2 linked regions of the Homo sapiens genome follow. The protein of the gene in region 1 interacts with the protein of each later gene in a biochemical or structural test. Each region holds a gene or a part of one and is shown on either strand. Other genes may lie near its edges. The genes, in order: SLC45A4 and PSMD9.

Region 1 (15,917 bases):
TAGGGGGTGTCTAACTCCCACTGAGAGATGAAGCTAACTCCTCTGCCCGTTCCCTCTCTTCCTTCAGGCCCTTCCTCAAAGTCCCCTTCAAGGGGGACTCTGCCTGCCCCCTTCCCCGCATTTCCACAGCAGCTATCGCTGGCCGGCTTACTGCATGTCACTTGCTTCCTTGCTCCTTGGCTGTCTCTCAGCTGGGATGCAGATTCCAGGAGGTGTGGCCTCCCTAGCATCTATGTCAGAGTGCCTGGAGCAGAGCAGGTGCTCAGTCAATGTTTAGTGAATGAGTGAATGAACGAATGAATGATTAGAAATCACATAGGCCAGGCTTTGGCACCCAGGTAGGTCTCAGTGAGTATTAACTACTGGTGCAGTGACACCCCAGGTGAGCTCTGGTCCTGCCCTCACCTTTTAGGCCCCCATCTGTAAGGGGAGACCAGAACTGACTCCACAGGGCTGCTCAGAGGCTCCAATGAGACTGTGGACAGGACAAGCACGTTGTAAAGTATAGGCGGTTCTTTAAATGATGATTCAGGACTTAAAGCCTAGGTGGGCCTTATTTTTGCTATGTGCTGGGGGAGGCAGGAATTATTGAGAGCTGGGGTGGTCTGGGAGGGTTTCCTGGAGGAGGACACATGGGACAGGCAGACCCAAGGGAAATGGTGGGCACTACCGGCAGGATGAGCAGTGTAAGCAAACGCAGGAAAAGGGAGAGCCAACCCAGAGGGCTTAGGAGGCTGCTGACTAAGCAGGGGCAGGGGTGGGAGTCCAGAGACGAAGCTGGGCTGAGGACCACGGCCTGGAGGGGATGTCTGGGAGGGAGGCTTACCCTGGGTTCCGCCCTGCCCTGGTGCCATCAGCAGGTGGGGCCTGCCGCAGGGGTCCTGGGTGGGGTGACCCCAGACATCACCTGCCTTTACCCTTCACTGTGAGAAGCCGTGCCAGATGCTCCACCCTGCTGGCCGCCCTGGGTGGCTGCCTCCCTGCTTCCTTTCCAGGTCACCCTGGTCATTTGGTTCATGGCTATGGCTCCAGTGCCAGCCCCTGTACTGGGCCCTGCCCCTCCTCCCCATCCTGACAGGTGGGCTAGAGATGCCAGCAGATGCAGCAACCACTCCACACTCTGACAGTCTAGGAGCCCCTGGCAGGCCCTGTGACCTTGTGGAAGGGGGCACGAGGACTCAGAGCCAGATGGCCTGGGTTCAAACCCTGGCACAGTCACTGACTCGATACGTGACCCTAGGCCAGCTACCTCCCCTCTCTGTGCCTCAGTTTCCTCTTCTAGCAGATGGGGAATCTAATGGCACCCAGCGCAGGGCTGCTGTCAACACGAGATTACTTTGATCAGGCGGGGGCCCAGCTGGCTTTGGAGCCCTGTGGTAACTGATCCGCATCATTATCTGGGCCCTGACCAGCCCAGCTGAACAAGCACTAGCCAGCCACTGCCCCACTAGGCTCTAGATCCAATTTCTCAGCCCCACCCCATATGCCCCACACACGGGCCTCAAGGAGCTCTTTAAGACCCCCATCTGGCCGCTCGAAGACGTCCCCAGGAAAGAGGTCAAGTGCTGAGGCCCTCAAACCTGGACAAAGTCGGTGTCTGATCGTGTTGACTTATTTTACAGGTTTCATTGTGGGATATAAGACAGCTACAGAGAAAGGCATCGCAGAGCTGCAAGCGTGCACATCCTGCTGCCGGGCGGGCGTGGAGCCTGTCCCAGCCCCTCACCCCTCTCGTGCTTCTGAAACCCGGCCTTTGCCCAGGGCGGGCCCATGTGGGGAAGGCCCTTCAGTGAAAACCTGCCTCAGTCTCTTCTGGGGAATCTTCAGGTTCTGCCCAGGCCTGGAGGGCCAGCGTCGTGCTGACGGCCACAGCCAGTCCTGGGCAGCTGCCCTTTCCTGGCACTGTGGTCACTGATGAGCTCTTCCTAGTCAATGACCTCCGCTGGGCCCTGCACTGTCATTTCCTCACATAATCCTCTCATACAGTCCTTTGTGCTAGAGAAACAAAGATTCTGTCCACCTCACTGATGAGGAAACTGAGGCTCAGGGAGGGGATGGGGCTCACCCAGGACACAGAAGCAGTGGAATGGCCTGGATTGCATTGAACTTCCAATGAGACACACCAGTATGGGGAGCCGTGTGGCCCCAGGTGTCCATGTGACCTGGGGTATGACCCCGAGTGGCTAAATCACTCCATCGTCAGGTAGCTGTGTGACTCCTAGCGATTGTGACCGTGGGCAATCGCATGGTTCAGGTAGCCATGAGACCCCAAGAAGCTCACGATCATAGGATGCCACATGGCCCCTTGGTGGCCATATGACACCGGGCAGCCATATGACCCCAGGAAGAGAAGCCGTGGGACCCCAGAAGCCCATTGCTCTGGAGCCAATTCAGGTACCTGGAGGTTCCGACCTGGATTCGTGTCCCGGCCCTGGGGCTGCTCTGAAAGCCCTTGGCTGCCCAGGACACTGGGCAGGCACATGGTCTTTAGGGTCTCGGGTCCCCTCCTGGGCAATTGAGATCCAAGACCTGCGGGTTGTGGACCTACTCACCTGCATCCCAGGGCTTTGGCCCCTACCCTCTGTGGAGCTCACACCCTCTTCATTTTGCCTTGGGGCTCACAGAGATTAGGTATTTTCTCCAAGGTCACACAGTAAGCTAGAACTCTGCTCCTGCGCTCTTAGCCTCACCTAAGCAGAGGCTGCTCCTGGGGAAGGGGCGGAGCAGGCGGAAGGACGCTGGCAGGGTGAGTAGACACAGCCTGAACATCAGCGCCCTAAGCACGAGAGCCAAGCGGGGCAGTGTCTTAGGAACACCTGGTGATACATGAGCGTGCTAATTGACATATTGGGGTTTTGTGAACGAGTTTGTTTAAAAACGTGTTTGTTGCTTTGAAAAGATAAAAGATTTGTGAAGGAGCACAGGAGGTGTCACTAAGGGACTGTCTGGCTGGGACACTGCTTCAGCTCATCCCCTCTCTTTCCTCCCTCTTCAGGGCCCACCTACTTGCCGCCCCCACCCCACCGCTGTGTAGGCTGTGGTCTCTGGAGAGAATCCTGTGCCTCCATTCTCTAAGGAAGCTGGGCAGGGGTTGAGGGCAGCTGGAGCACAGCAGGCCCTTGGTTAAAGGCGGGTTGTTGTTTGAATCATAGTAAAATTGGAGCCAGTTCAGGGAGGGCTTCCATATGTACCACCTCCCTCCCTTTCCTTTCAAACTGGGATCAATGGTTGTTGCTCTCGGACACTTCCTCATGGCAGGAGAGCACCAGGGACACTCCCAGAAGAGAAAATGGCAGATGCAAAGGTCTGGGGATGGGCTCAAAAGGGTGGCACGGACAGTCACCTGGTGTGACAGAGGAGAGAGCCAGGGGAGGGGGGACCTGCCAGGCCTGCCAGGAATGTGGAGCTCCTGGCGCCCGCGGGCTCTACTGGCACCCGCGGGCTCTACTGGCACCCGCATGCCTCACCAGCCCTCTAGCCTCCACCTCCGTGGGGGCTTCCTGCCCGGAAGCCCTCCTGCTTTTCCTAGGAAGAGAGGCTGCTCAGGCAAGTCACGCTACCTCTGAGCCTTGGTTTGTTCGTCTGTGCAATGGAAAGGCTGACAGAGGGCCAGGGAAGCTGAGGGCAGGGGCTGGAGAAGTCTGAGTGGCCTTCATTCCTTCTCCTTCTCTCCTGATTTACCTGTTGTGCGGAGCACCTTCTACCTCTCTCCCATGGCCCAGTGTGTTCTCCACAAGGTCCAAAGAGGGCAGTCTTGTCTTTTCAACCAAGGTAGGAGCTGTCCATACCAGGTCACCAGCTGGCCTCTGGCTCAGAGCAGGTCACAGCCTGTTTGTGGGATGTGGACGTTTTGCACCAAACAGGCTCTTTCCTCTTCATTTACGAGGCACAGAGGAGAGGAAGGGAATGATGCCCAGCAATAGTAAGATGGGTGTGTTCACGGACGTCATTCATTCATTCATTCATTCAATCAGTCAGCCTGTTCACCTAACACCTAACCAGATATGACCCAGGTATAAATCCCGGCTCTATCGCCTACCAGCTGTGCGGCTACAGGTACCAACAACCTGTGTCGCAGCTTCCTCCTCTGCAGGATGACACCCATCTCACAGGAAGGTGTGCACACATGAGCGCTGGGGATGAGAGGGGCCTGGCCCTGCTCCAAGGCATCCCCAGGTGAGGCACGGAGAAGACAAGGTTGGAACCTAAGCAGTGATGGAGGCACCACGCCCTGGACTCGTCCCAGCATCGGGGAGGTTGTCATGCTCACAAAGATGCAGGATTTGCCACAGCATTTGTGGGGCCCTTCTTAAAAGCTGTGAAGCATTTAAAGATGGCAACAGCAGAGCGCTAAGCCAAGCGTGGAGCTATTCTGAGCACTGGGTATGTGTGACTACACAGGTCACACACCCATGACAGCTAAGGGCCCAGGCACGCCTGCTTCAGAGCCAGGCCAGAGTCCGTGTCTTTCTGACCCCTGGGCAAGAGGGCTTCCCCGTATCAAGCTCTCTCCTCACAGGACTGGGGAGCCAGCCATTTAAGGAGGGGGTGGAGTGGGGCAAAGATGTGTGGGGGCCCTGAGGATTCCATTCCCCGGCTTCCATGGGCAGCTGGACAATGGGGCCACAGGCCACTGACACATATCACCCTTCTTGGTGGTGGCAGGTAATATAAGGCCCTGGCCGGGTAGGCTGGGAAGGAGTGCTGCAGGGTGGCCCTGCCACTGCCCTCTTGCATAGGCATGCACACGCACACATGCACACGCACACACACACACATGCACACACGCACATGCAAACATGCACACACATGCACACACGTATGCACACACACATATGCACACACGCATGCACACACACTTGTTGAGGTGCTTGCACAATGGGGATATATTTTTTCTTAACTTTACTCTGGTCTCTGTGTTTAACTCCAGGTTATAGAAGTAAATTAGTTGGGTTTCCACATCTCAGGCTTAGAAACTGCCTTCTAAGTTTCATTCACAAGAAACTTCATGCCTACACTTACATTCTTTTTTTTTTTTTTTGAGACAGGGTCTTGCTCTGTCATCCAGGCTGGAGCACAGTGGTGCAATCATAGCTCACTGTAGCTTTGAACTCCCAGGCTCAAGTGATCCTCCTGCCTCAGCCTTCTGAGGGCTGAGATTACAGGCATGTGCCACCACACCCAGCTAATTTTTGAATTCTTTGTAGAGATGGGGCCTAGCTATGTTGCTAGGCTGGTGCCTATACTTCTATACTTGCATTCAGTTACTCTTTTAGAGGCTTTTTTTTTTTTTTTTTTGAGATGGGGTCTCATTCTATTGCCCAGGCTGGAGCGCAGTGGTGCGATCTCAGCTTACTGCAACCTCTGCCTGCCAGGTTCAAGTGATTCTCCCGCCTCAGCCTCCCAAGTAGCTGGGCCCACAGATGCACACTGCCCCAATCAGCTAATTTTTGTATTTTTAATAGAGATGGGGTTTCGCCATGTTACCCAGGCTGGTCTAGAACTCTTGAGCTCAAGCAATCCACCCACCTCGGCCTCCCAAGGTGCTGGGATTACAGGCATGAGCCACCACCATGCCCAGCCCCAAGAAATACTTATGGAGCACCTACTACAAGGCTGATCCTAGACTGGGCTCCATGGCTACCATGGCTGGTACATACCCCACAATGCACTCCTTAAGAAGAGAGATGGGATCATGTTCCCAGCTCCAGTACTAGGACCCAGCAAAGCGTGTGGCACATAGTAGGCACACACTCAGTAGTTGGTTACTGCATGAATGACAATGAAGACAATTCAATCAATACCAGCAATTTGTGAATAAACAAAGTCTTTACCTGTTCTGTCCTCTTGATTGTATTGTCATTTTAAAAAGCATCATTTTGCTATTTTGTTTAAGCTTCAGGACAACTTGTGAACTAGGTACTATTAGAATGCTCACTTATAGAAGAGGACTCAGGGAGGTTAAGTAGGCGCCCAGGCTCACACAGTTGGCTCACAGCACACCTGGAATTGCCGCTGCCTCTATCCTTTGGCCATTGAAAGAAAAATCACCAGGGAAGCAGATGTACAGTTTGAGCACTCATGATGTGTCTGATGCTGCTTTGGACTGTCTACAGACCATTGATGTACTTACTAACCCTCTGTTGAGATACTGCATACACATGGAAAAACACACACGTCTTTTTTTTTTTTTAATAGAGATAGGGTCTTACCATGTTGCTCAGGCTGGTCTCAAACTCCTGGGCTCAAGCAATCCACCCGCTTTGGCCTTCCAAAGTGTTAGAATTACAGGCGTGAATCACCGTGCCCCACAGGCACATGCATCTTGACTGCACAGCTGGAAAAGTCATCATAAACTGAGCACACTGTAACCAGCACTCAGACCAAGACACAGAACACAGCCAGCCCCCAGACACGTCCTCTGTGCCCTGCTTCCTGGCTCTGGCACCCCTCCCTCCAAGGGTAACCACTATCCTGACTGCTACCCCCATATACACCTTCTACCACTTTATCCACATGGAAACAAATATGGCTTTTTATCCTCTGGCTTCTTTTCCTCAACATCATTTGTGAGAGTCATCCATGTTGTTGTGTGTAGTTGATTATTCACTGTCATTGCTGTCATTCCACTGTGTGAATATATCACAATTTATGTATCCATTTAACGGCTGATGAGCATTTCAGTAGTTTCCAGTTTGGGGCAATTATAAACACTGCTGCTATCAACAGAAACACAATGTTAGGTGTGTATCTAGGAGCAGAATTGCTGGGTAATCAAGGCCTTTCAAAAAGATTTTGAAAGTTGTACCACTTTGCATGTCCACCAACAGTGTCTGGCAGTTCCAGTTGCTCCATTTCCTTGTCAACACTTGATATGGTCAGATTTTCCCATTTCCGATGCTCTTGGAGGCTCTGCTCTGCACTTCACTTCTAAATTCCTTTAGCAACAGGTGAGATGGATCTTACGATTTCTATTTTACAGATGAGGACGCCAAGGTTCTGAGAAATGAAGTAATTCCTCCAAAGCAACTTAAACCCTGGCAAGGGTGCAGGGCTGCGACGTTAACAGGGTTGGCCTCAGCCCATCACATCTGTCTGTTAAAGCCGCCTCCCCAGACCTTGTCTTGATGGGGTTTCCCAGCAGTCCTGCCCTAGGGATTGTGGCCCTTCTACACGTGGGGAGAGACGGATCAGTGTCCCTGGCCAGGGCCAAGCCTGAGAGGGAGGCCCAGCCTCCAGGAAGCTCCGGGTCGGGTCTTCGTCCTGCCCCGCTCTCCAGGTTGGAGAGGGGACCCGCAGAGCGCGGGGCGTTGGGGGAGTTGGGGACGGGGGCGTGGTCCGGGACCAGGTAGGAGGTCTTCGGAGGGTGGCAGGGAGGGGAAAACAGGAGAGTTTTCTCCTGCAGCGGAGGAGGGGCTGCAGCACCTGGATGGGGCCCATGTCGCCGCGCCACGGGCAGGGGCGGAGGGGGCGGGAGGGTGCTTGCCAAGGGGCTGGGCTGCCGGGGGCCGGGGCCTCGTGGCTAGCCGGACCCCTCTGCGACAGAGTGGCGAGAGGAGCGGGGAGAGAAGGTGGGGACAGGCGGGGGCCACCTCCTGCGGCTGCAGAGAGGGATGGGGTGGATTGCGGGCCAGCGCTTTAGGGGAGAGAGGGCGGACGCTCGGTGCGGAGGGGCCGGGGCCGGGGCCGGGGCCGGGGGCGTAGCGGGAGGAGGGCGGGGGCGGGGCTGGATTATGGCTGGGGGCGGGGCCATGGCGAGACGGGGGCGGGAGCCACGGTGCGCGCGGGGGCGGGGCAGGGGCGCGGCGGGGGCGGGGCGGCCGTTCGGGGGCGGGGTGGGCGGCAGCGGAGGCCAATGAGCGCGCGCGGCGCAGACCCCGCCCCCCGAATCCCCGTCCCGCGGCGGCGGGTGCTGCATAGTCATGAGGCGCAGGGGCCGGCGCTGCGTCAGCGGAAGCGGCGCGGAGCGGCTGTTTCCGACCCGATAAAGCGGCGTTGTCTCCGCGCGCCGGCCGCAGCCTCGCAGCGCTCTCTCCGCGCCCGCGTCGCTGACTGACCGCCCGGCCGGCCGGCCGAGGGAGCAGCCCCCGCCCGGACCCGCAGCCGCCTCCCGACCCCGGTGCGCCCGGGGCTCCGCGCCCCCGTAGCCCCTGCCCGGCCCGGCCCGGCCGCCCCGCCGCCCCCGCGGCCCCGGCCGGAGGAGACAGGTGAGTGGCCTGCCGCCCGCAGCCGCCTGCCCCGCCGCCCCCTGCACCTCGCACCTGGGCGCCGGGCACCTGCAGCCTCCCCACCCCCACCTCCCGCACAGCCTCGGCCTCCAGGTCGGGTCCGCGCCGCAGCCCCAGCCCCGCACCTTCTCCGGGGGAGGGGACGTGCCCCCACCCGGCTTGCGCTGGCTCCTCAGGGCCCCCCAATTCCTTCCCGCCTCCTCTTTCCGGATTGCACCTGCCCTGGTCCCCAGCCCTGCAGCCTCCCTCATTCCCCCCACCCCGGCCCCCACCCCGGGGCGCGCGCCTTCATTTGGACCCGGCCCGCTTTCGCACCCATCAGTCCTCCCCGCCCCCAGTTCCTCGGTTTCTCTACCCAGAGAGGAGCCTGGCGCCTCTAACTCCTGGTCCTGACCCTGTCTTGTCCTTCTAACCCCTGCCTGCTATCTCTAACTTATGAGAATTCAACCAGCGATACACCACTCGCGAAGTGGCCCCCTCTCCCCTCTGTCTGGACCGGTCCTCCCAACCGAACACACTCCCTTCTTCCCCTTCTTCCCCTTCCCTTCTTCCCCTCCTTTCCCTCTGCCCAGTGCACACACGACCCTGGCAGCACTGCTAGCCAGTGTCCCCCGCCTCGGACCCCCAGCCTGCACCGCCAGACTGTGGCTCTGCCCCGGTCTCATCGGCACTGCGCTCCCTTGTGTCCCTTTGAAGATACCTTGATTTCCTGAGACCGACCTTGTCCCTGGAGGAAAGAGGCCAGGGCATCAGTTCATCCGGGCCCAGATTCCCTGCTCTGTAGAAGTCCCCGCACCTTCTGCGTCTCAGCACCCGCTGCCCCTTTCCCCTTTGCGCTTAACCCGTTCCTCCCCCAGGTATCCTGCTCTGGATTGGAGCACTTCCAGCAGCGGCTTTTCCAGCGGAGGCGGATCCACACGGGGCCCAGCCTCCTGGTTAGCTATTCAGAATGATTCTAGAAGGCGGGGGCTAGGGAGGGCTGGGAAGGGCCGCTTGACCTCCTAAGGAGCCTGAGGTGTTTGTGTCTCTCCAGTGCGGGTCACTGATGGAGTGTGGCTTCAGGTTCACAGACCTAGCCACTGACCCCCATCTGATACCTCAGCTGACTCCAGCAAAACAGGGCTTGTCGTTTTTATTACTGTTTTGGGGGCTGTCTTTTCCAGTCTATGACCCGGAGCGAGGAGGGTTTACCAGATGAGTGATTGAACTAATTGTTGTGGGGTCAGATGATTCTTGTGGGCTGGTAGATTCTGAATCGAAGCCCATTTCTGCTGGGGAAAAGCCACTGCATCTGCCCAGCATTACTGAGAGCGCCCTGCGCTTCCATTCCCCAGACGGTCTCATCCTTCCTGTGTCATTGGCAGACAGGTAGAATGTGGTAGGAATCTTATCCTTCTGTTATTTTGTGCTGGCTTTAGGAAAAAATAAGAAAACAAAAAGCTGGAGTATTGGTGTACAGGTTAGGGAGTGTAACACATGGGGATCAGAGCAGGTAACACACACTGTCCTTAAAAGAAATGTATAGTGTCCTCACTTTTCTGCTAGGTTTGAATTATTGTTAAAAGAACGAGCAGAGATTATTTAAATGCTTGGGAGAGGTTTTGCAGAAGCCACTTGATGAGAAGAGGCAGCCCTGCAGGTTCCGGGTGGAGGAGACTCAGGCGCAGTAAAGAACTCATGTGTTTCTAGAGAGAGGCTGGGGAACTAGGTCGTCTTACACATCAAGGATTTCACACCCGTTCAGGCTAATTGTTTTTGTGGCAGTGGCTGTAAAGGAAAGAAGCAAATCGTTTGAAATGTGTTTGAAATACACACTGGGTATTTAAAGGTGTGTTTTTTTGGCCCAGGTGTTCACAGGGCGGGGAGTGGGGAGGCTGCCCAGGGCCACCTCCCGGGCCTCGTGGGGGGAGTGGCCTGCTGCCCTGCCGAGATGCGTGCTGCAGCTTTGGCCCTTGTCGCATCGTGAAAGCAGATCAGAGATTGGACTGGGTGAGCTCCAAGGTGTGTGTCTTGCAGCTTGTAACACCCTCTAACTTTGCTTATTGGAGGGGGGTGGGGGAGGGGCGGAGCAAGCCTGTAAACCGGATTCTGCCTCCTTTCCGTGAGCTCTGAGATCCCGCCCCAGCCCGCCCCGCAGATCTGCAGGGAAGGAGAGGGCTGCGGCAGCGGCAGCTCCCCACTTTCCCGATGGAGGAAAGGAGCCGAGGAAGGTATTTCAGCCAATCTTGAGGTTGCTTGGTGGTGAATGGATTGTATCTGTGTTGTCAGGAGAGAGGTGGGGAGGACAGAGGAGTGCAGCGCAGGGGTTCGGGCTGTGATTGTCGTTCTGACCGTGGTGCATCCCAGTGCCCTCTCCCGCTCTTCCCGAGGGTCCTGACGCCCAGTGGCTGGCTGGGGTGGTTTGTGACCAACAGCCTTGTGGCCTGGCACCGAGTGAGGGTGACTGACAAGCACTGTAGGTGGCAGACAACCCCAAATTGCCAGTGCCCTTCTTGGGAACACCCCTGGCAGAGTCGTGTCTGTAATTTGTGGAGGCAGAATATGCTGGAAGCCGCGTTCCTGCTAATGATGGGTGAGGACTGTTCCTCGCTGGCCTCCTAGGTTCCCCAGGTTTTCATCACTGCGTGATTATGCTGACGAAGGCGCACTTAGTGAAACACCATCAGAAGGGTTGTCTCCACCTGAGCCAGGAAACAGATTTGACCAGAGGGAGCAAACCTCCCAGCCGAAGAGCAGCCTTGTAGAAAGGAAGGGGTGAGAGGACCCCAAAAGCAGGCGTCTGCAGTGGGTTTTCATGCAGAGGACCTGAGCGGCTGCACCTCCCCCACCGGCTCCTAGACAAGGTCCCCTTGTTTAGATTAGCTTAATTACCCCACCAAAATCAATGAACAAGGATCTTTTTAAATGTGAAACTTTCAAAATGTGCTTCTAGTGGCCTTTTCCCCCGAGTATCAAATGCTAAGCTTTTGTGAAATCAGGCACTTTCAGAGGACCGGGAGACCTCTTTAATGTTCGTGGAAATGAATCTTCTCTACCCTGAATCAGGAGAGGGCCTGCCGAAAGGGAAGCTTAACAGGTCATATTGTCATTTTCAACCCCTTGCCATTTGGGTGGAGGTGACAGGAGAAACAGCATAGTGTTTACGAAGTGGCCTCCTTGGCAAGTGACTTTTGGAGGAGGCATTTTAAGAAGATTAAAAACATCCACAGACTTAGAGGGCAGCCGCATAACCCACTTAGTGTTTCATATCCCTGATAGAGTGGCCCTTTGAGAGCCGTGGATGGGTTGCTGTTGTTCCCACCTCAGACGACGTGGGTGTTATTGCCCCAGGAAGACGGGACACTTGGTAGGGGTCATTTGTTGAGTGCGACTGGTTAGATTGCGGGAAATAGCACAAAACCCTGATGATGGAGAGAAGGGCTCTGAGTTCTCTTTGGCTCAGCTGCTGTGTAGCTTGGGGACTTCAGGTGAGAGGGAGAGGAAGTTCTCTCTCTCCCCCCCTTTTTTTTTTTTTTTTTGAGACAGTCTTACTCTGTCACCCAGGCTGGAGTGCAGTGGTGCGATCTTGGTTCACTGCAGCATCCACCTCCCAGGTTCAAGCGATTCTTTTGCCTCCGCCTCCCGAATAGCTAGGACTACAGGTGCACATCACCATGCCCAGATAATTTTTGTATTTTTAGTAGAAATGGGGTTTCACCATGTTGGCCAGGCTGGTCTTGAACTCCTGACCTCAAGTGATCTGCCTGCCTGGGCCTCCCGAAGTGCTGGCATTATAGTCTCTCTCCTTTGCGTGTGTGTGTGTGTGTATTTAAGAGTCAGGGGGTCTCACTGTGTTGCCCAAGCAGGTCTTGAACCCCTAGGCTCAAGTGATCCTCCTGCCCCAGCTTCCCAAGTAGCTGCTGGGTTATAGGTTCATACTACCGCAGCTGGTGGGATTTCTCTTAAGTTAGAGGGGCTGGGCTGTAGCTGCATTATTTTGAGGGTCATCCCAAGGCCCACCTTCCTGTCTAGTGAGGGCTCCAGAACACAAGTTCACTCTCAGAGTCTGTCGGGAGCCGCGGGGGGGAATAGTGCTGGGCATTTTGTCCCCAGTGCAGGAATAAGGGTGCCAGCCAGTCCAGAGTGGGATCCTGAGGCAGCTGAAGGGATTTGCGTAACCTTTCAAGTCATTGAGCTTGGCCATCTCACCCTCCCACCTCTACTGGGCCCAGGCCCCAGTGAGGGAGGTATTGTTCAGACCTGGGTCTCGGTACTTTCATCCTCCTAAACCTGTTGAAGGATTTTGCTGGCAGTGAGAGGAAACTGCATTCCTGAACTCTGGCCCAGAGGTGCTTAATTTGCTGCATTGAAAAGTCCCTTCCAACCTGGGGTTCTGTTATGCTACTTGCTCTGAGTTTTTGTAGTTTGCCCCAAGGTTTCTCTTGGGGTTCTGCCTTGAAATCCTGGAGCCATCTGAATTGACTGGCAACCAAATTTTTCCTATTTCAAAGAAAGGAAAATCTTGAGTGAAAAATGCATAGCAAACCCTTAGAATAGATAATAAAGAGGGATCAACACAGTGCTTACCTGGTCAGGTGTGGTGGTCATTATACTTTTATATATGACCCTTATTGCACAATTTTAGGAAATCACTCAGGCTGGGCACAGAGGCTCGTTCCTGCAATCCCAGCACTCTTGGAGGCTGAGGCAGGAGGATCGCTTGAGTCCAGGAGTTCCAGGCCAGCCTGAGCAACACGGCAAAACCCCACCTGTCCAAAAAAAAAAAAAAAACAAAAATTAGCCGGGCACGATGGCACGTGCCTATAGTCCCAGCACTTTAGGCGGCTGAGGCGGGCAGATTGCCTGAGCCCAGGAGTTTGAGACCAGCATGGACAACATGGCAAAACCCTGTCTCTATAAATACAAAAAAATTAGCCGGATGCGGTGTCTCACATCAGTGGTCCCAACTACTCGAGAGGCTGAGGCGGGAGGATTGCTGGAGCTCAGGAGGTCCAGGCTGCAGTGAGGGGAGATCACACCCACACTGCACTCCAGCTGGGGCAACAGAGTGAGACCCTGTCTCAAAAAAAAAAAAAAAAAAAGACATTGTAAGGCCAGAAAACAAGAAAATAAGAAAAAACAGAAAATAAGTTCCTTATCACCAACAATGTAGTCATCATTTTAGGGAAATACATTTATTCAAGAGCATGGTTTTTGGTTTGGTGTATATGGGAAGGGAATATTTTGTAAGTTTTTTGAGGGGAGGGGTTTGACATCTCCACGCTGGAGATGAAATCGCATATTAAGAGCATGTTAGACACGAGGCGAGGGGGACTGCCTGAGTATCGTAGAGGCAGCTTTTTCACTGTCAGTGATGAATGAATTAGGAATGTTTTAGAGTTACATTGCTGTCAAGCAAAGGCCTGAAAACATTTTTGCTTATGTGTTCTGTAAAATAACTTTACGCCTGCCGCGGTGGCTCATGCCTGTAATCCTAGCTCTTTGGGAGGCCAAGGTGAGTGGATCACCTGACGTCAGGAGTTCGAGACCAGCCTGGCCAACATGGCAAAACCATCTCTACTAAAAATACAAAAATTAGCCAAGTGTGGTGGTGCACGCCTATAATCCCAGCTACTTAGGAGGCTAAAGCACAAGAATGGCTTGAACCTGGGGGCAGGGGTGGGGTCGGGGGGAGGGAGGGCAGCGGGGATGGGGGTGGTGGTGGTGGTGGTGGTGATGGTGAGTGGCGTGGAGGTTGCAGTGAGCCAAGATTGCGCCACTTCACTCCAGCCTGAGCGAAAGAGCAAGCCTCTGTCTCCATCTAAAAAACAAAAAAAACTTTGAAAAACTATAGACACATTTTTAAGTTGATGTTTAAATTTTTGGTCCTAATTTGAAACAACTGCAAAAGATGCAATTTCTAGTATAATGTTGGCATTTAAAAGTAACCATTGTATTGCTTTTTAAAAAGTATCCAATGTTAAATATCCTAATGATACCTACCATCAGTCACCCTTTTAAAAAATGAACAAATTGTTCTTAACAGTCTTGACAAGGCAGTTTTTTTCTTTGTGAACTTGTATGTTTGCTCCATTTGAAAGTCTTTTCATCCCTCATTCTTTTTTTTCTTTTTTGAGACAGTGTTTCCCTCTGTCACCCAGGCTGGAGTGCAGTGGTGGGATCAGGGCTCGCTACAGCCTTGACCACCTAGGTCTATGCAATTCTCTCTCTCCAGCCTCCTGAGTAGCTGGGACCACAGGTGTATGCTATCATGCCCAGCTAGTTTTTATTTTTATTTTTTGCAGAGATGGGGTCTCACTGAGTTGCCCAGGATTTTTTTTTTTTTTTTTTTTTTTTTTTTGAGATAGGGTCTCATTCTGTCCCCCAGGCTGGAGTCCAGTGGTGAGATCATGGCTCACTGCAGCCTCGACCTCCCCGGCTCAAGTGATCCTCCCACCTCCACCCTCCAGGTAGCTGGGCTTATGCCCAGCTAATTTTTCTTTGTATTTTTGGCAGAGACAGAGTTTCACCATGTTGCCCAGGCCGGTCATGAACTCCTGGCCTCAAGCGACCCTCCCTCCTGCCTCAGGCTCCCAGAGTGCTGAGATTACAGGCATGAGCCACTGCACCCGACCTATGGACTGTTCTCCATACTTCTCTGTGACAAAAGTATATATTGCAATTTAAAACATTTCTGTGATCATTAGGCTATGTTAACATCCAGAAGAATGTTTTATGTCATTGTAATTATCAGTACAGAATTGATCACAGAAACATAAATATCATTGATCTTGATAAACAATTACTAAATGCACAAAATACACCGGAAGGAGGTCTCAAAGAGCTGGGGGGTGGGGCCCGTTTAAGGTGCCTTAATTAAAGGGATAATTGAACTGTCCCTGGTACCGGGTACATCTCTGTTGCTGGAACGTTCCCTGGGAAGAGTGCCTTCCTCTTGTCTAGGCGGGGCAGGCAGGCTGGAGGTGGGGGCTCCCTGGGCACCGGGACTTTCTCCACAGCAGCTTCTCAGGCAGTCCAGTTTTAGGCAGGCGTTTGTGGGGACCTTGCGGCTCTCTGAGTTCCCCACACCGGAGGCCCCTCAGGATGCTCCTGTGTTTGCACGGGGCGCTTGCTGTGCTGTGTTCGCACACTTGGTCCACGGGTAAGGTCCACGCCACTTCGTCGAGTCACGGGGTCCGTGCTGCTCCATGTTAAGCTTTACTATTTAATTGCCTGTTTTCTAAATGCGCAGTGTTAAAGGGCAGAAGATGAACCATTTCACGAGTAAGCACGCTGCGGCATTTTCATCTGGTTGGGCTAAAATGTAAGACAGTGGAATTGTGCCTCGGGTTAAATTTTAATTTGACAGAAAGGTGTGTTAGAAGCAGAGAAGACTGACATGGCCAGACTTTAGATTTGCTAGAGGTTTTTGCCTGGCAGGAATCTGGTCACCCTGCTCCGCCCTTCTTCCTGCACAGGGCATCGCTGTGCCTGTTCCGGAGCGAGGCAGCTGGTCTCAGGCCATCAGGTTGCCATTAGGATCAGGGCCATGGGGTGGGTTGGGAAGGTGGGCCTCTGCCCGAGAACCAGATGAGGCTGGTCCGGGGCGTTGACACTTGGCATCCCTGAGAATTTGCTCAAATCTGGAGATGCTCAAAAAGTAGAAAGATTTACTATTTTTAGCCTTTAGACCTAATGAAATTTGGTAAG
Region 2 (16,191 bases), on another chromosome or scaffold:
ACTCTGAATTTATATTAATAAGTATCTTATTACTATTTTATGTTTTGTAGAGACAGAGTCTTGTCATGTTGCCCAGGCTAGTCTCAAACTTCTGGCCTCAAGTGATTCTCCTGCATTGGCCTTCCAACATGCTAGGATTACAGACATGAGCCACCATGCCAGGCAGTATCTTATTATTGTTATTATTTTCAAGGGTCTCAATCTGTCACCCAGGCTGGTGTGCAGTGGCGTGACCTCAGCTCACTGCAACCACTGCCTCCCAGGCTCAAGCAATCCCCCCACATCAGCCTCCCAAGTAGCTGGGACTACAAGTGTGTCCCACCACGCCAGGCTAATTTTTTGTATTTTTAGTAGTAGGATTTCGCCATGTTGGCCAGGCTGGTCTCGAACTCCTGACCTCAGGTGATCTGCCCACCTTGGCCTCCCAGTGTTGGGATTACAGGCGTGAGCCAACGTGCACAACCCAGTATCTTATTTTTAAAAATTACTTTCTGCTCTGCTCCACGCTCTGCCCAGGTACTAAATATTAACACCCTCACAGGTATAACTGCTTCCCTTTTTCCATTCTATGGGGGAGTTGACTTTACTGAATAAAAATAGGATGATTTACTATGTGGGTCTCTGCATCTTACTTTTCCAAATGCTTAATTATTGGCAACTGTGGTGGATATTCCTTTAGCCCCTCCAAATCTCTTCCCTCCCTGCCCTTCTCTGTGCCCCAAGCCTTATCACCTTCAGCCAACCTGAGACCCTGGCAGGAAAGGAGAGGAGAGACAAGTGGGGGTATCTCTTCCTTGGCTTCCTCCCTGCCAGACGTTGTTTTAGCAGCTGTTTTAGCAGCAGCTATGTCCCTGTACTGAAGGCCACACTCCTGTTGGGTGACTACAACTCTCTCTAGGTTTCCAAACCCTCCCTTCTCTTGCCCCTTTAGGCTTAAGGGGTGGGGTAAGAGACCCCATGCTCACCAGCCCCAGGTGGCTTCATTATCCTTATCTGCTCCCATGACTTTGTTTTTTTGTTTGTTTGTTTGTTTTGTTTTGAGATGGAGTCTTGCTCTGTCGCCAGTCTGGAGTGCAGTGGTGCGATCTTGGCTCGTTGCAAACTCCGCCTCCCGGGTTCAAGCGATTCTCCTGCCTCAGCCTCCCAACTAGCTGGGACTATAGGCATGTGCCACCATGCTCAGCTAATTTTTTGTATTTTTAATAGAGACAGGGTTTCACCATGTTGGCCAGGATGGTCTTGATCTCCTGACCTCATGATCCGCCCACCTCAGCCTCCCAAACTATTGGGATTACAGGCGTGAGCCACCGCGCCCAACCTAATTTTCGTATTTTCATTAGAGATGGGGTTTCACCATGTTCGCCAGGCTGGTCTTGAACTCCTGACCTCAGGTGATCCTCCCGCCTAGGCCTCTCAAAGTGCTGGGATTACAGGCATGAGCCACTGTGCTGGCCTGATTAAGCAACTAATTTACAATTCTTAAAAACTTTTAGGGGGCCAACTCATGAGCGAGCCTGCCACCTTTATGGCTGTCAGAGTCCAGACCCTTGTTTTATAGATTCAGGAAACGAGGGGAGGATTTGTCGTTTGTAGGATTCCTGGGCCAGAGTGAGGTGAAACATGGAAAGTGTGGTGGTCCTCAAGTCAGGCAGTATGAATTCTGACCAACCAGGTCTCGCCAGGGATCTCTAGTTCCCTGGCTCTATTTCCCATGTGTTTGTCTCTTGGCCTACCTCTCGTTCTGAAATGAAGATGAGCAAGATGTGAAAGCTTGAGAGAGGCAACTGAAGTTCTCCTAGATCTTGGCAGCTTTCTAAAACAAAGGTTTTGCTGGGCTGTCTGTGGCCACTGCAGGGAAGATGAAACAGAACAACTGGAAAGGGGAAAGACAGCTCTCTCAGACTGTTCCCTTGCAATCCTCAAACAGTCCAACATTTGAAGATAAACAAGCCTCAGTCCACATTCTCTAAGAATCTCCAGTGCATGGGACAGACAGGTAAACATGCATTTACAATACCAAGTGAAAAGTGCAGAAAACAGCCCAGCTGTGGGGTGGGACACATAATGATTTCCAGGGAGGTAGTATTTCTTTTTCTTTTTGTTTTTGAGAGGGATCTTTTTCTTTTTGTTTTTGAGAGGGAGTCTTGCTCTGTTGCCCAGGCTGGAGTACAGTGGTGTAATCTCAGCTCACTGCAACCTCTGCCTCCCAGCTTCTCCTGCCTCAGCCTCCTGAGTAGCTGGGATTACAGGCACCTGCCACCAAACCCAACTAATCTATTTTAGTAGAGATGGGGTTTCACCATGTTGGCCAGGCTGGTCTTGAACTACCGACCTCAAGTGAGCCACCCGCCTCGGCCTCCCAAAGTGCTGGGATTACAGGTGTGAGCCACCTCACCCAGCCTTGAGCTGGATCTTGAAGGAGAGGTTCAAGTCAGCCTGGCCTGAGATGGTGTTCCAGGGTGGGAAGAGCAGGTGCTAAGACCCAGTGCTAAGAGAGACTGAGCAAAAAACGTGCCAGAAACTGTTAGAAGTTCAGCATGGCTGGAGCATAAGTTGTGTGTGTGTGTGTGTGTGTGTGTGTGTGTGTGTGTGTGTGTGTGTGTGTGTGTGGTGGGGTACAGGGATGGGAGGTGGTCTAAAGGCAAGCAGAGATCAGGAGTCTTAAAGGCCAAGAGAAGGGCACTGAAGCCATTAAGCAGTAGCGTGCCAATGTCACTCTTGGGAAGGTTGTTCTGGCTGCTTTGGAGACTGGGTTAAAGTGCGCAACCTGAGACAGTTCAAAGACTGCCCAATCAGGAGGAAGAGGTGGCGGGGTAGGAGTAGAGGTGGAGGAGATGGGTGGATTTGGGAGCTATGAAGGCAGTCACAGGATAGAGGTTTATTATAATGACAGCAATATTGACAAGCTCATAATGTAGTAACCTAACAACAGCTCTCTTTTCAGACCGCATGGGTAAGAATCTTCTCCTCACCCTTTTTATTTGGAAAAATTTCAAACCTCAGAAGAACTGCAAGATAGTTCCCCCACACAACCAACTTTTCCTTTTCCTTCTTTCTTTTTTTTTTTTTTTTGATAGAAACTGGGTCTTGCCACGTTGCTCAGGCTGGTCTCAAATTCCTAGGATCAGGGGATCCTCCCACTTCTGCCTCCCAAAGTGCTAGGATTATAGCCATGAGCTGCCTACAAAAGTTTCCTTGAACATGCATATACTCTTCATGTGGATTTGCTAATTGTTACATTTTGCCTCTTTCTCCCCTTGTATCATTTTCTTTGAACCACTTGCAAGTTAGTAGCTGAAACCATGACGCTACACATCTAAATATTTGAGCATTTATCTCCTTACCATAAAAAGAGTTTCTTTCACATAATTGCAACATCATTATCTGACTGAGGAAACTTAACACTGATATACTATAATTTAATATAAAGTTCATATTTAGATTTCATCAATTGGCCCAGTAAGTCTTTTAAAGCCGCTGTTTCTCATTAATAATTCAAGTAAGGATCATGTATTGCATTTAGTCATCGTTTCTCTTTTCCTCTCTTTTTTTTTTTTTTTTTGAGACGGAGTTTCGCTCTGTCGCCCAGGCTGGAGTGCAGTGGCATGATCGCCGCTCACTGCAACCTCTGCCTCAAGCAATTCCCCGGCCTCAGCCTCCCAAGTAGCTGGGATTACAGGTGTGTGCCGCTGTGCCCGGCTGATTTTTGTATTTTTACTAGAGATGGGGTTTTACTATGTTGGCCAGGCTGGTCTCAAACCCCTGACCTTATGTGATCCACCCACTTCGGCCACCCAAAATGCCGGGATTACGGGCGTGAACCATCATGCCTGGTCCTCCGCTAATTAATTTTTTTTTTTGTAGAGACGTAAGTCTTGCTATATTGCCCAGGCTGGTCTTAAACTCCTGGACTCAAGGGATCCTCCTGCCTTGATCTCCCAGAGATATAGGACTACAGACATGAGCCACTGCACCTGTATCTCTCTCTCTCTCTCTTTTGACAATGTTAGAAATGTTAGTTTATTTTTCTACCTTTTCTCTTTTTTTCTTCTTTCTGTTTAAAGTTTGTTTTAAAATTTTATCTTGAAGTGGTTTTAAACTCACAGAAAAGTTCCAAAAATATTATAAAGAACATTTATATGTTTCACCAATTATTTACATTTTGTAAATGTAAATAATTTACATTTACAAATAATTTACAGAGTCACCAATTATTAACATTTTGCCGTATTTACTTTATCTCTCTCTTGTCTACAAATATATATCTCTTTCTTTTTCTTGAGACGGAGTCTCACTATATGGTCCAGGCTGGAGTGCAGTGGCACGATCTCGGCTCACTACAACCTCCACCTCCCAGGTTCAAGCGATTCTCTCCTGCCTCAGTCTCCCGAGTAGCTGGGATTACAGGTGCCTGCCACCACGCCCAGCTGATTTTTGTATTTTTAGTAGAGACGGGGTTTCACCATGTTGGTCAGGCTAATCTCAAACTCCTGACCTCAAGTGATCCACCCCCCTCAGCCTCCCAAAGTGCTGAGATTACAGGCGTGAGCCACCATGCCCGGCCTTACATATATATCTGTATTTTTTTTTTTTTTAGATGAAGTCTTGCTCTGTCGCCAGGCTGTAGTGCAGTAGCACCATCTCGGCTCATTGTAACCTCTGCCTCCCGGATTCAAGTGATCCTCCTGACTCAATCTCCCGAGTAGCTGTGACTACAGGCATGAGTCACCACGTCCAGCTAATTTTTGTATTTTTGGTGGAGACAGAGTTTCACCATGTTGGCCAGGATGGTCTCCATCTCTTGACCTTGTGATCCGCCCACCTCGGTGTCCCAAAGTGCTGGGATTACAGGTGTGAGCCACCACGCCCGGCCTATATCTGTATTCTTTTCTGAACCATTTGAAAGTAAATTGCCTCTCTTAACCCTAAATACTACAGGGTACTTTTTCTAAGGGCACTGTCTTACAAAACCACAGTGAAAGTATCAAAATCAGGAAATTTTCAGATATCAAGGGTGGGAGGATATTACAATTTTTTTAAAAATCAGGAAATTTGGCCAGGTGCGGTGGCTCACGCCTGTAATCCCAGCACATTGGGAGGCTAAGGCGGGTGGATTGCCTGAGGTCAGGAGTTCTAGACCAGTCTGGCCAACATGGTGAAACCTTGTCTCTACTAAAAATACAAAAAAATTAGCCGAGCATGGTGGCATACGCCTGTAATCCCAGCTACTCGGGAGGCAGGGGAATTGCTTGAACCAGGGAGGTGGACGTTGCAGTGAGCCGAGATCTCGCCACTGCACTCCAGCCTGGGCAACAGAGCCACCACGCCCGGATAATTTTTGTATTTTTAGTAGGGACAAGGTTTCAGCATGTTGGCCAGGCTGGTCTTGAACTCCTGACCTCAGGTGATCCAGCCGCCTCGGTCTCCCAAAATGCTGAGATAACAGGCGTAAGCCACCGCACCTGGCCACATATTGCATTTAGTTTTTTTTTTTTTTTTTGAGATGGGGTCTCACTCTCTCGCCCGGGCTGGAGTGCAGTGGCACGATCTCTGCTCACTGCAAGCTCTGTCTCCCAGGTTCATGCCATTCTCCTGCCTCAGCCTCCTGAGTAGCTGGGACTACAGGCACGTGCCACCATGCCCGGCTAAATTTTTGTATTTTTAGTAGAGATGGAGTTTCACCGTGTTAGCCAGGATGGTCTCGATCTCCTAACCTCATGATCCACCTGGCTTGGCCTCCCAAAGTGCTGGGATTACAGGCGTGAGCCACCGCGCCTGGCCTAGTTTTTTTTTTTTTTTTTTTTTTGAGACGGAGTCTTGCTCTGCCGCTCAGGCAGTGAGCCACCTGCCCTGGCCTCCCAAAATGCTAGGATTATAGCCATAAGCAGCTTACAAAACAGTTTTCTTGAACATGCTTATACTCTTCACGTGGATTTGCTAATTGTTACATTTTGCCTCTTTCTCCCCTTGTATCACTTTCTTCGGACCACTTGCAAGTTAGTAGCAGAAATCATGACACTACACATCTAAATAATTGAGCATTTATCTCGTTCCAATAAAGATAAAAGTGATTCTCTCATATAATTGCAACACCATTATCTGACTGAGGAAATTTAACACTGATATACTATAATTTAATATAAAGTTCATATTTAGATTTCACCAGTTGGCCCAATAAGTCTTGTAAAGCTGCTGTTTCTCATTAAATAATTCAAGTAAGGATCATGTATTGCATTTAGTCATTATTTCTCTCTTCCTCCCTTTTTAACTTTATTATTTATTTATTTATTTGAGACAGAGTCTCACTCGGTCACTCAGGCTGGAGTGCAGTGACATGATCTCAGCTCATTGCAACCTCTGCCTCCCCGGTTCAAGCGATTCTCCTGCGTCAGCCTCCCAGGTAGCTGGGATTACAAGTGTGTGGCACTGTGCCTTGGTAACTTTTGTATTTTTAGTAGAGACGGTGTTTCACCATGTTGGCCAGGCTGGTCTTGAACTCCTGACCTCAAGTGATCCACCCACCTCAGCCTCCCAAAGTGCTGGGATTACAGGTGTGAATCACCACACCTGGTCCTCTGCTAATTAATTATTATTTTTTTTTTTTTGTAGAGATGGAGGTCTTGCTATGTTGCCCAGGCTAGTCTCAAACTCCTGGACCTAAGGGATCCTCCTGCCTTGATCTCCCAGCATAATGGGACTACAGGTATGAGCCACTGCACCTGTATTTCTCTCTCTCTCTCTCTCGATAATGTTAGAAATGTTAGTTTATTTTTGAGGGGTGCGGTAGCTCACTCCTGTAATCCCAGCACTTTGAAAGGCCGAGCTGGGCTGGATCACTTGAGGCCAGGGGTTCGAGACCTCAGCCTCCTGAGTACCTGGGATTACAGGTGTGTGCCACCACACCCGGCTAATATTTTATATTTTTGGTAGAGACAGGGTTTCACCATGTTGGCGAGGCTAGTCTCAAACTCCTGACCTCAAATGATCTGCTTGCCACAGCCTCCCAAAGTGCTGGGATTATAGGCATGAGCCACCACACCTGGCCCATTGCATTTAGTTGATGCACATCTTTAGTGTTCTTAAATCTAGGCAATTGCATATCCGCCTCCTTTCTCTGTCCCCCACCCCTTATTCCCCATGTGTATTTCACAACATTGACTTTTTTTGAAGTTTTCAGGCCAGTTGTTTTGAAGTATGTCCCTTCTTTTGGATATGTCTGTTTTCCAATGATTAGATTCAGGGCAAACATGTTTGAATACTACACAGATGACCGCTGAGCCCTTTTCAAGACAAAATATTAGAGGCACATGGTCAGATATCAAAGTTGATTGTTTAGGTAAGCTGGGTTGGAATTTTGGCCTCACATTTTGCTAGTTGGGTAAATTGGTTATTGAGACGGTTTTCTCAGCTGTCAAATTGGGATGTAATAATCTAGCTTCATGAGGTTGTTGAATTAATATATGTAAGGCATTTAGAACAGCGTCTGGCACATTATAAGTATCAATAAATAAACACTGTTACCGTTATTATTATCACTACGATTTTTAGAGGCCTTAACAGGAACATCCAGCACCTTCAACAGTATATGGCTCATAGGAATCATTCCATGAATATTTGTTAGCAGAAGGACAGCTCTATGAGATAGATTGCTATCAATTACTGCCCCATTTTACAGATGAGGAAACTGAGGCCCAGAGAAGCCAAGTAGTGACCTAGGGTCACACAGATTGCCGTTAAGTGGCAAGATACGGGGTGTGTACTCAGGCATATCGGATCTGTAAAGTGAGGGATAAGGAACCTTAATGTATTTTGTAAATCCTCCAGGGCTGTGTGGATGTGAAGAACTGAATTGGAGCGCCACGCAGCGGTTCTCTGGCGTACAGTATCCATCCATACAGTAGGCGCTCAATAAATGTCTGCTGCACGAATGAGAAAATGAGTCAGCTGGGGCGAGATCATCCCCTAGCGTTGGTGTGCAATTGCGTGGGGATCCATTGCTTCCGACGCTACTCCTGCCGGGTCACCACAGGCGCACGTGTTCCGGCAGGGCGCGGCTTCCGGTGACCCAGCTCCGCCCTAAGCCCCATCCCAAGCCCCGCCCCTTGACTGTTCTCGCGTTCGCGGACGGCTGTGGTGTTTTGGCGCATGGGCGGAGCCGTAGTTACGGTCGACTGGGGCGTCGTCCCTAGCCCGGGAGCCGGGTCTCTGGAGTCGCGGCCCGGGGTTCACGATGTCCGACGAGGAAGCGAGGCAGAGCGGAGGCTCCTCGCAGGCCGGCGTCGTGACTGTCAGCGACGTCCAGGAGCTGATGCGGCGCAAGGAGGAGATAGAAGCGCAGATCAAGGCCAACTATGACGTGCTGGAAAGCGTGAGTGTGGGTTCGGGGCGCCCCAAGTCGCCTAACCCGGCCCGGAGTCCCTGGGGTACTGGGATGCCAGGGCGGCCTCAGTTTGGGCGCTCCGCAACGGATCTCCCTGGGAGGCCCAAGGCGCCGCAAGTGCGGCCTCTGTCGGCACAAGAAGGCAGGCAAAGAACTTTAGCAACTGAAGAGTTAGCCATATTGATATCCAGCAAGAGTTTGTGGAGCCCTGCTGTGTGCTAGGCGCTGGTTTAAGTGCTGTGCATTGTTGAGTTAATTTAATCTTTGCAACAACCCTTTGAGGTGGATGCTGTTACTCTTTCCATTTTAGGGAGGGGGAAACAGGTGTTACTTGGTGATTAAACAGCTGTCATGTGCCTCGCTGACTGCCTTATCTTAATTTTGTACTTTTTGTAAAGACAGAGTCTCACTGTGTTGCCCAGGTTGGTATCGAACTCATGGCCTCAAGCGATCCTTCCACCTCGGCCTTTCAAAGTGCTGGGATTACAGGCGTGAGCTACTGCACCCGGCATTTGCTGATTGTATCGTGAATTCTTAAACTTCAGTGTGTATATGAATTACCTGGGGATCTTATTAAAATGCAGATTTTGTTTGAGGCAAGGGAGCAGATTCTGCATTTGTAGCAAACTCCCAGCAATGCTGATGCTAGTGGTCTAAGGACCGAACTTTGAGTTACAAATAAGGCTCATCATCCTTATTGCATAAGGAGGAAACTGAGGCCCAGAGTGGGGCAAACGCCTATCTAAGGTCATGTAGTTCGGAAGTGGCAGTGGTGGGTCTGGCTCAAAAGCTGATGCAGGTTTTCTTATGCCATCTAGTGTAAAATCACAGATCAGTTTGCAGAGGAAGATGCAATTAATTATGCCCAAGTAGGGTGGGATGGAATGCATTTTAGGTGATGTAAGATGAAGTTTCTTTTTTTTTTGTCTGAGACGGAGTCTTGCTTTGTCACCCAGGCTGGAGTGCAGTGGCTCAATCTCGGCTCACTGCAGCCTCTGCCTCCTGGGTTCAAGTGATTCTCCTGCCTCAGCCTCCCGAGTAGTAGGGATTACAGGCGAGCGCCAGTACGCCAGGCTAATTTTTTATTTTAAGTAAAAGCAGGGTTTCACCATGTTGGTCAGGCCGGTGTTGGATTCCTGACCTCAGGTGATCCGCCCACCTTGGCCTCCCCAAGTGCTGGGATTACAGGCGTGAGCCACCGCGTCCGGCCATAAGATGAAGTTTCATACGGAGGGCCAGAGAACCATTTTACTGGGTGCTGACTATATGCTCAAAGTGGGATTCAGACTTCAGGTCTGTTACATTCAGAACCTGTGCTTTCAAGCAAATTACCAGCAATTTCTCAAACTTTAGTTTACTTTCTACCACATGCAGTATACTATATGCATATACCACTTGTGTTATTCCTTTGATATTTTTATTTAAATAGATCTACTTTTAATCTTATATAAATGTATTATTATTGTTATTATTATTATTGAGACAGGGTCTCGCTCTGTTGCCCAGGCTGGAGTTCAGTGGCACCATCTTGGTTCACTGCAGCCTCAATCTCCTGGTGTCAAGCAATCCTCCCACCTCAGCCTCCCAAGTAGCTGAGACTGCAGGTACGTGCCACCACGCCCAGCTAATTTTTGTATTTTTTGTAGCTATGGGGTCTCACTATGTTGCTTGCTCAGACTGGTCTGAAACTCCTGGGCTCAAGCAGTCCTCCTGCCTCTGCCTCCCAAAGTGTTGGGGTTACAGGCATGAGCCACAGTGCCTTGCCCATAAATGTATTTTAAAAGGAAATTTCAAAACTCCGCTGCATATGGAAAATGATAATCTCTTCTCTTAAATATAAGGTCAGATGCTTTGCATGTTGATACGGCATGTTGGTTGCTTCTGGCTAGCTGCTGTTGCTTGCTGAAAGCTTTCAGCCTGAAACCGTGCTCTATATTTGTTTTTAAAAAGTGGGTTTGGGCCGGGCCTGGTGGCTCACGCCTGTAATCCCAGCACTTTGGGAGGCCAAGGTGGGTGGATCACCTGAGGCCAGGATGGTCTCGATCTCCTGACCTCGTGATCCGCCCGCCTCGGCCTCCCAAAGTGCTGGGATTACAGGCTTGAGCCACCGCGCCAGGCCTACAAAAAATTTTTTTAAAAATTAGTTGGGCGTGGTGGTGCATGCCTGTAGTCCTAGCTACTTGGGAGGCTGAGGCAGGAGGATTGCTTGAACCCTGAATGTTGAGGCTGCAGGGAGCTATAATTGCACCACTGCACTCTCTTGTGGGTGACAGAGTGAGATGCTGTCTCTTTAAAAAAAAAAAAAAAAAAAAGGCCGGGTGCGGTGGCTCATGCCTCTAATCCCAGCACTTTGGGAGGCCGAGGCGGGCGGATCACGAGGTCAGGAGATCGAGACCATCCTGGCTAACACAGTGAAACCCCGTCTCTACTAAAAATACAAAAAATTAGCTGGACGTGGTGGCCAGCGCCTGTAGTCCCAGCTACTCTGGAGGCTGAGGCAGGAGAATGGCCTGAACCCGGGATGTGGAGCTTGCAGTGAGCCAAGATTGCGCCACTGCACTTCAGCCTGGGTGACAGAGCGAGACTCCGTCTCAAGAAAAAAGAAAAAAAAAAAAAAGACTGGGCATGGTGGCTCACGTCTGTAATCCCAGCACTTTGGAAGGCCGAGGTGTGTGGATCGCTTGAGGTCAGGAGTCCGAGACCAGCCTGGCCAACATGGTGAAACCCCGTCTCAACGAAAAATACAAAAATTAGCCAGGTGTGGTGGTACACATCTATAATCCCAGCTACCCGGGAGGCTGATGCAAGAGAATCACTTGAACCTGGGAGGCGGAGGTTGCAGTGAACCAAGACTGCACCACGACACTCCAGCCTGGGTGACAGAGATTCCATCTCAAAAAAAAAAAAAAAAAAAAAAAGAAGTGGACAGCTAAAACTATAAATCTCGTATAATAAAGCATAGGAGTAAATCTTCATGACCTTGGATTAGGCAAAGCCTTTTTAGATATGGCACCAAAAACACAAGCTACAAAAGAAAAAATGATAAGTTGGACTTCAACTTTAAAACTGTGTTTCAAAGGGCATAGTAAAATGAAAAGATAAGCTCCAGAATGGGAGAAAATATTTGCATATCATTTCTCTGATAAGAGGATAGTATCTAGACTATAATAAGAGCTCTTACAACTCAATAATAAAAAGACAGCCAATTAGAAGACAGGGAAAGGATCTGAATAAACATTTCTCCAAAGAAAATATGGTCAATACAAATGGTCAATGGCCAGGCGTGGTGGCTCATGCCTGTAATCCCAGGACTTTGGGAGTCTGAGGCAGGAGGATCACTTGAGGCCAGGGGTTTGAGACTAGCCTGGGCAACACAGTAAGAGCCTATCTTTACAAAAAATTCAAAATTAAAGGCCGGGCATGGTGGCTCATGCCTGTAATCCCAGCACTTTGGGAGGCCGAGGCTGGCAGATCACGAGGTCAGGAGATCGAGACCATCCTGGTTAACACGGTGAAACCCCGTCTCTACTAAAAATACAAAAAAATTAGCCGGGTGTGGTGGCAGACGCCTGTAGTCCCAGCTACTCGGGAGGCTGAGGCAGGAGAAGGGCCTGAACCCAGGAGGCGGAGCTTGCAGTGAGCCAAGATCTCGCCACTGTACTCTAGCCTGGGCAACAGAGCGAGACTCTGTCTTTAAAAAAAAAAAATTAAAAATTAAAAATTAGCCAGGTGTGATGACATGTGCCTGTGGTCCCAGCTACTTAGGAGGCTGAGACAGATCGCTTGAACCCAGGAGTTTAAGGCGGCAGTGAGCTATGAACACACCACTGCACCCGATCCTGGGCAACAGAAGATCTTGTCTCAAACCAATACAAACACAAAAGCCATTACCTTTTACACTTTACATGGGTCAGTTATATGGTATCTGAATTATATCTCAATAAAACTGTTATAAAAACAGAGGGTACTAGAGATAGCAAGTAACTGGGGTGTTGCAGAGACCAGCACCAAATGGACACTTTTGCCTTGACAATTGCAGGATTGTAGAGAATTGGGAGAGGAATATGTATTTTTGATTCAGGGTTATTTAATGCCGTGTGTGTGAGCTGCTAGTGTTATGGATCCCATCCTTTGAGAAGCATTATCCAATGTGATATTGATTCTCAAAGGCTGGTCAACCCTTAACCACTGTGGGAAGGCAGGAGCAGATACAGGTTTTTAGCCCCTGGCGCATTTCTGCAGTGTCACGGCGAGTCCTGTGTTAGGGGAGTGTGGAGAACTATCTCCCTGCGCAGTGGACAGTAGGTTTGGGTGTAACCCGGAGGCTTCCAGAGAGAAAGGGAGCAAAATGAATGGAATCCCTCTTCTCAGTGCCTGTGTACACTGGCAGCTTGTCCCTGGACTGACTAATCCTTACAGCCACTATTTATGACTTCTGCGCGTAGTCGTTTTCTGAGGCCACCTTAACACCACAGAGTTGGTGACTTAAAACAGGAATTTACTTTGTCCCAGCTCTGGAGGCCAGAAGTCTGAAATCAAGGTGTCAGCAGGGTTGGCTCCTTCTGCAGGCTCTGAGAGAGAAGCTCCCAAGCCTTTCTCCTGGCCTCTGGTGACTGCTGGCGGTCCTTGGCCTACAGCTGTGTCACTTGAACCTCTGCCTGCATCTTCATGTGGCCTTCCTCCTGTGTCTGTCCCACACCTACCTCTGCCTTTCTTTTATGAGGACACCAGCCACCAGATGAGCTTATCTCGAGATCCTTAACATAATTACATCTACAAAGACTCTTTTTCAAATAAAGTCATATTTACAGGTTCTGGGGGTTAGCTCGTGGTTATCTGTTTTTGGGGGCCGCTCTTCAACCCACTATGCTGTGTATGCGCGTGGCATGTGCTAAGTACTCTGCAGGTCAGCTCGTTAGTTCTTGCAGCAGGTAGGGAGGGAGGCGAGTGCTCCTATTCCCATTTTATAATTGAGGAAGCTGAGGCTTAGAGAGGAGAAGGTCTCAGCTAAGGATGCCCAGCTTGTACATGGCAGAGTTGAGATTCAAATTAAAGTCTAACCAATTGCAAAGCCCCTCCCCTGAACCATGTGACTGGTTTCACTGCTTTTGTGTACTCTCCTCTGACTCATGTTAAAAAAAAAAAAAGTGTTGTTTTGAATAAAGAATACATTCCCATAGGCAAAATTCAAAACCTACAGAGGGGTATAAAATGGACTGTCTCTCTCCCTGCCCTGTCACCTAGCCACCCAGTTCTTCTCCCCGGAGGCAGCTGGTGCTATCAGTTTCCTTCTTCAGATCTTTTTATTTTCAGAAGAATCAAAGCCCTGCCACAGCTGGGTGCTGTCTGGGCTTTTCACTCCCCTCTAGCTTCCAGGGCCAGCAGCCAGGTGTCAGCCACCTGTGGGAAGGAGGGTGTGAAGGAGTGGAGGAAGAGGCTGGCCTTGGGGATGATGCTCAAAGGAGTCTTTGGTTTTATCGGCACTGTTTTAACTTCAAAAAAGAATGGATTCATGCATTACTTGCGTCGTTAAAAATAAAAAATGAAAAACACAGTGCCCACCCCAGGGTAGTTGTGAGGGCATGAGTAGAGCCCCTGGTGTAAGTGATCAGTATGTGGCAGTTTTCATTACTGTCACCTTTATTATGACTTCAGAGGAGAAGGGTCTGGGGAAAGACATCCTGGGGACATTACACCCATGAGCACCTTTTAACCACGTTTCTTTCCTCCAGCAAAAAGGCATTGGGATGAACGAGCCGCTGGTGGACTGTGAGGGCTACCCCCGGTCAGACGTGGACCTGTACCAAGTCCGCACCGCCAGGCACAACATCATATGTGAGTGGCCCTCTTAGAAGACTTTCCCCACCTTGTGGTGGGAAGGTGTTAAAGGCATACAAATAAAACCAACTATCTGTATTATCTACTGCCTTCTCTTCTGCCTTGATGGGATTGTCTTGTCCCCATCCAAGGACTGAGAACCAAGGGAATGGGCTAGACTCTAAGGTTCTATATTTCTGGTTTCATTTTCTCTCTCTCTCTCTCTCTCTTTTTTTTTTGAGTCAGGGTCTTGCTCTGTCTTCCAGGCTGGAGTGCAGTGGTGCTAACATGACTCACTGCAGTCTCAACCCCCCAGGCTCCAAGTGCTCCTTCTGCCTCAGCCTCCCAAGTAGCTGGGACTATAGGCATGTGTCGCTGTGCCTGGCTAATTTTTTTTAGTAGAGACGAGTCTCACTAAGTGGCCCAGGTGAGTCTTGAACTCCTGGACTCAAGTGGTCCTCCTGCCTTGGCCTTCCAAGGTGCTGATTGTTTTTAATTAAAGAGCTAGCAGAGAGTACAGATTGGATAGTATATTTGTTTTCTGTTTCTGCCATAACAAATGACGTGATTTGTTTTTAATTAAAGAGCTAGCAGAGAGTACAGATTGGATAGTATATTTGTTTCTGTTTCTGCCATAACAAATGACCACAGACTTAGTAGCTGGAGATAAGAAGTCCAGATGGGTCTCACTGGACTAAAATCAAGGTGTTGGCAGGGCTGGCTCCTTCTGGAGGATCTAGGGGAGAACCTGTTCCTGGTCTTTTCTGGTTTCCAAAGGCTGCCCACCGTCCTTGGCTCATGGCTTCGTCCATCTACACAGCCAGCAGTCGCATTTCCCTCCCTCTGATTCTGTCATAACATCTCTTTCTCTCACTCTCCTGCCTCCCTCTTTCACCTATAAAGACCTCTGTGATGACACCAGGCCCACCTGGATAATCCAGGATCATGTCCGAATCTTAAGGTCCTTAATCACATCTGCAGAGCCTCTTTTGCCATGTAAGGTGGCATATTCCCAGCTTCTAGGGGCTAGGATGTGGATGTGTTGGGGGCCATTATCCACTCAGCCATAGGTAGGCAACCGTCTCCACCACAGAGTCCTATTAGCATTTATCCTCCACATTTTTCACTTACTAACTCCTCTTTAATCTGTTTGAATCTTGATTCCATCTGCATCACATCTTATTTATTTATTTATTTTTTGAGACGGAGTCTCGCTCTGTCACCCAGGTTGGAGTGCAGTGGCACGATCTTGGCTCACTGCAACTTCCACCTCCCGAGTGACAGAGCAAGAGACCGTCTCAAAAAAAAAAAAAAAATCTGTTTGAGCAATTCCTTATTGGTCTTTTTTTGAAAAATCTGTTCTCGGCCGGGTGCGGTGGCTCATGCCTGTAATCCCAGCACTTTGGGAAGCCAAGGCGGGCAGATCACCTGAGGTCAGGAGTTTGAGTCTAGCCTGACCAACATGGCAAAATCCTGTCTGTACTAAAAATAGAAAAATTAACTGGATGTGGTGGCACATGCCTGTAATTCCAGCTACTTGGGAGGCTGAGACAGGAGAATCACTTGAACCCAGGAGGCAGAGGTTGCAAAGAGCCGAGATTACACCACTGCACTCCACCCTGGGCGACAGAGCAAACAAAACTCTGTCTCAAAAAAAAGAAAGAAAATCTATTCTCAAAACAGCCCTTTTTAAAGAACAGTTATAGATTTACATAAAAATTGGAAAATAATGGCTGGGTGCGGTGGCTCACGCCTGTAATCCCAGCACACTGGGAGGCCGAGGTGGGCAGATCACCTGAGGTCGGGAGTTCGAGACCAGCCTGACCAACATGGAGAAACCCTGTCTCTACTAAAAATACAAAATTAGCTGGGCATGGTGGCACGAACCTGTAATCCCAGCTACTCAGGAGGTTGAGGCAGGAGAATCACTTGAACCCAGGAGGCGGAGGTTGCCGTGAGCCGAGATTGTGCCATTGCACTCCAGCCTGGGCAAC

What was found.
Region 2: the proteins of SLC45A4 (region 1) and PSMD9 form a complex in vitro, tested with the Homo sapiens proteins (one study listed by IntAct).

What each region holds. Positions count from the first base shown.
Region 1 is NC_000008.11:141,300,386-141,316,302, reverse strand, and holds the start of SLC45A4 (solute carrier family 45 member 4), read left to right. Parts: upstream 1-8,014; 5' UTR 8,015-8,207; intron 8,208-8,410; exon of another isoform or gene 8,411-9,163; intron 9,164-10,351; exon of another isoform or gene 10,352-10,438; intron 10,439-14,791; exon of another isoform or gene 14,792-15,917. UniProt on the Homo sapiens protein: Proton-associated sucrose transporter. May be able to transport also glucose and fructose.
Region 2 is NC_000012.12:121,880,627-121,896,817, forward strand, and holds the start of PSMD9 (26S proteasome non-ATPase regulatory subunit 9), read left to right. Parts: upstream 1-8,163; 5' UTR 8,164-8,230; coding exon 8,231-8,368; intron 8,369-14,112; coding exon 14,113-14,215; intron 14,216-16,191. UniProt on the Homo sapiens protein: Acts as a chaperone during the assembly of the 26S proteasome, specifically of the base subcomplex of the PA700/19S regulatory complex (RC).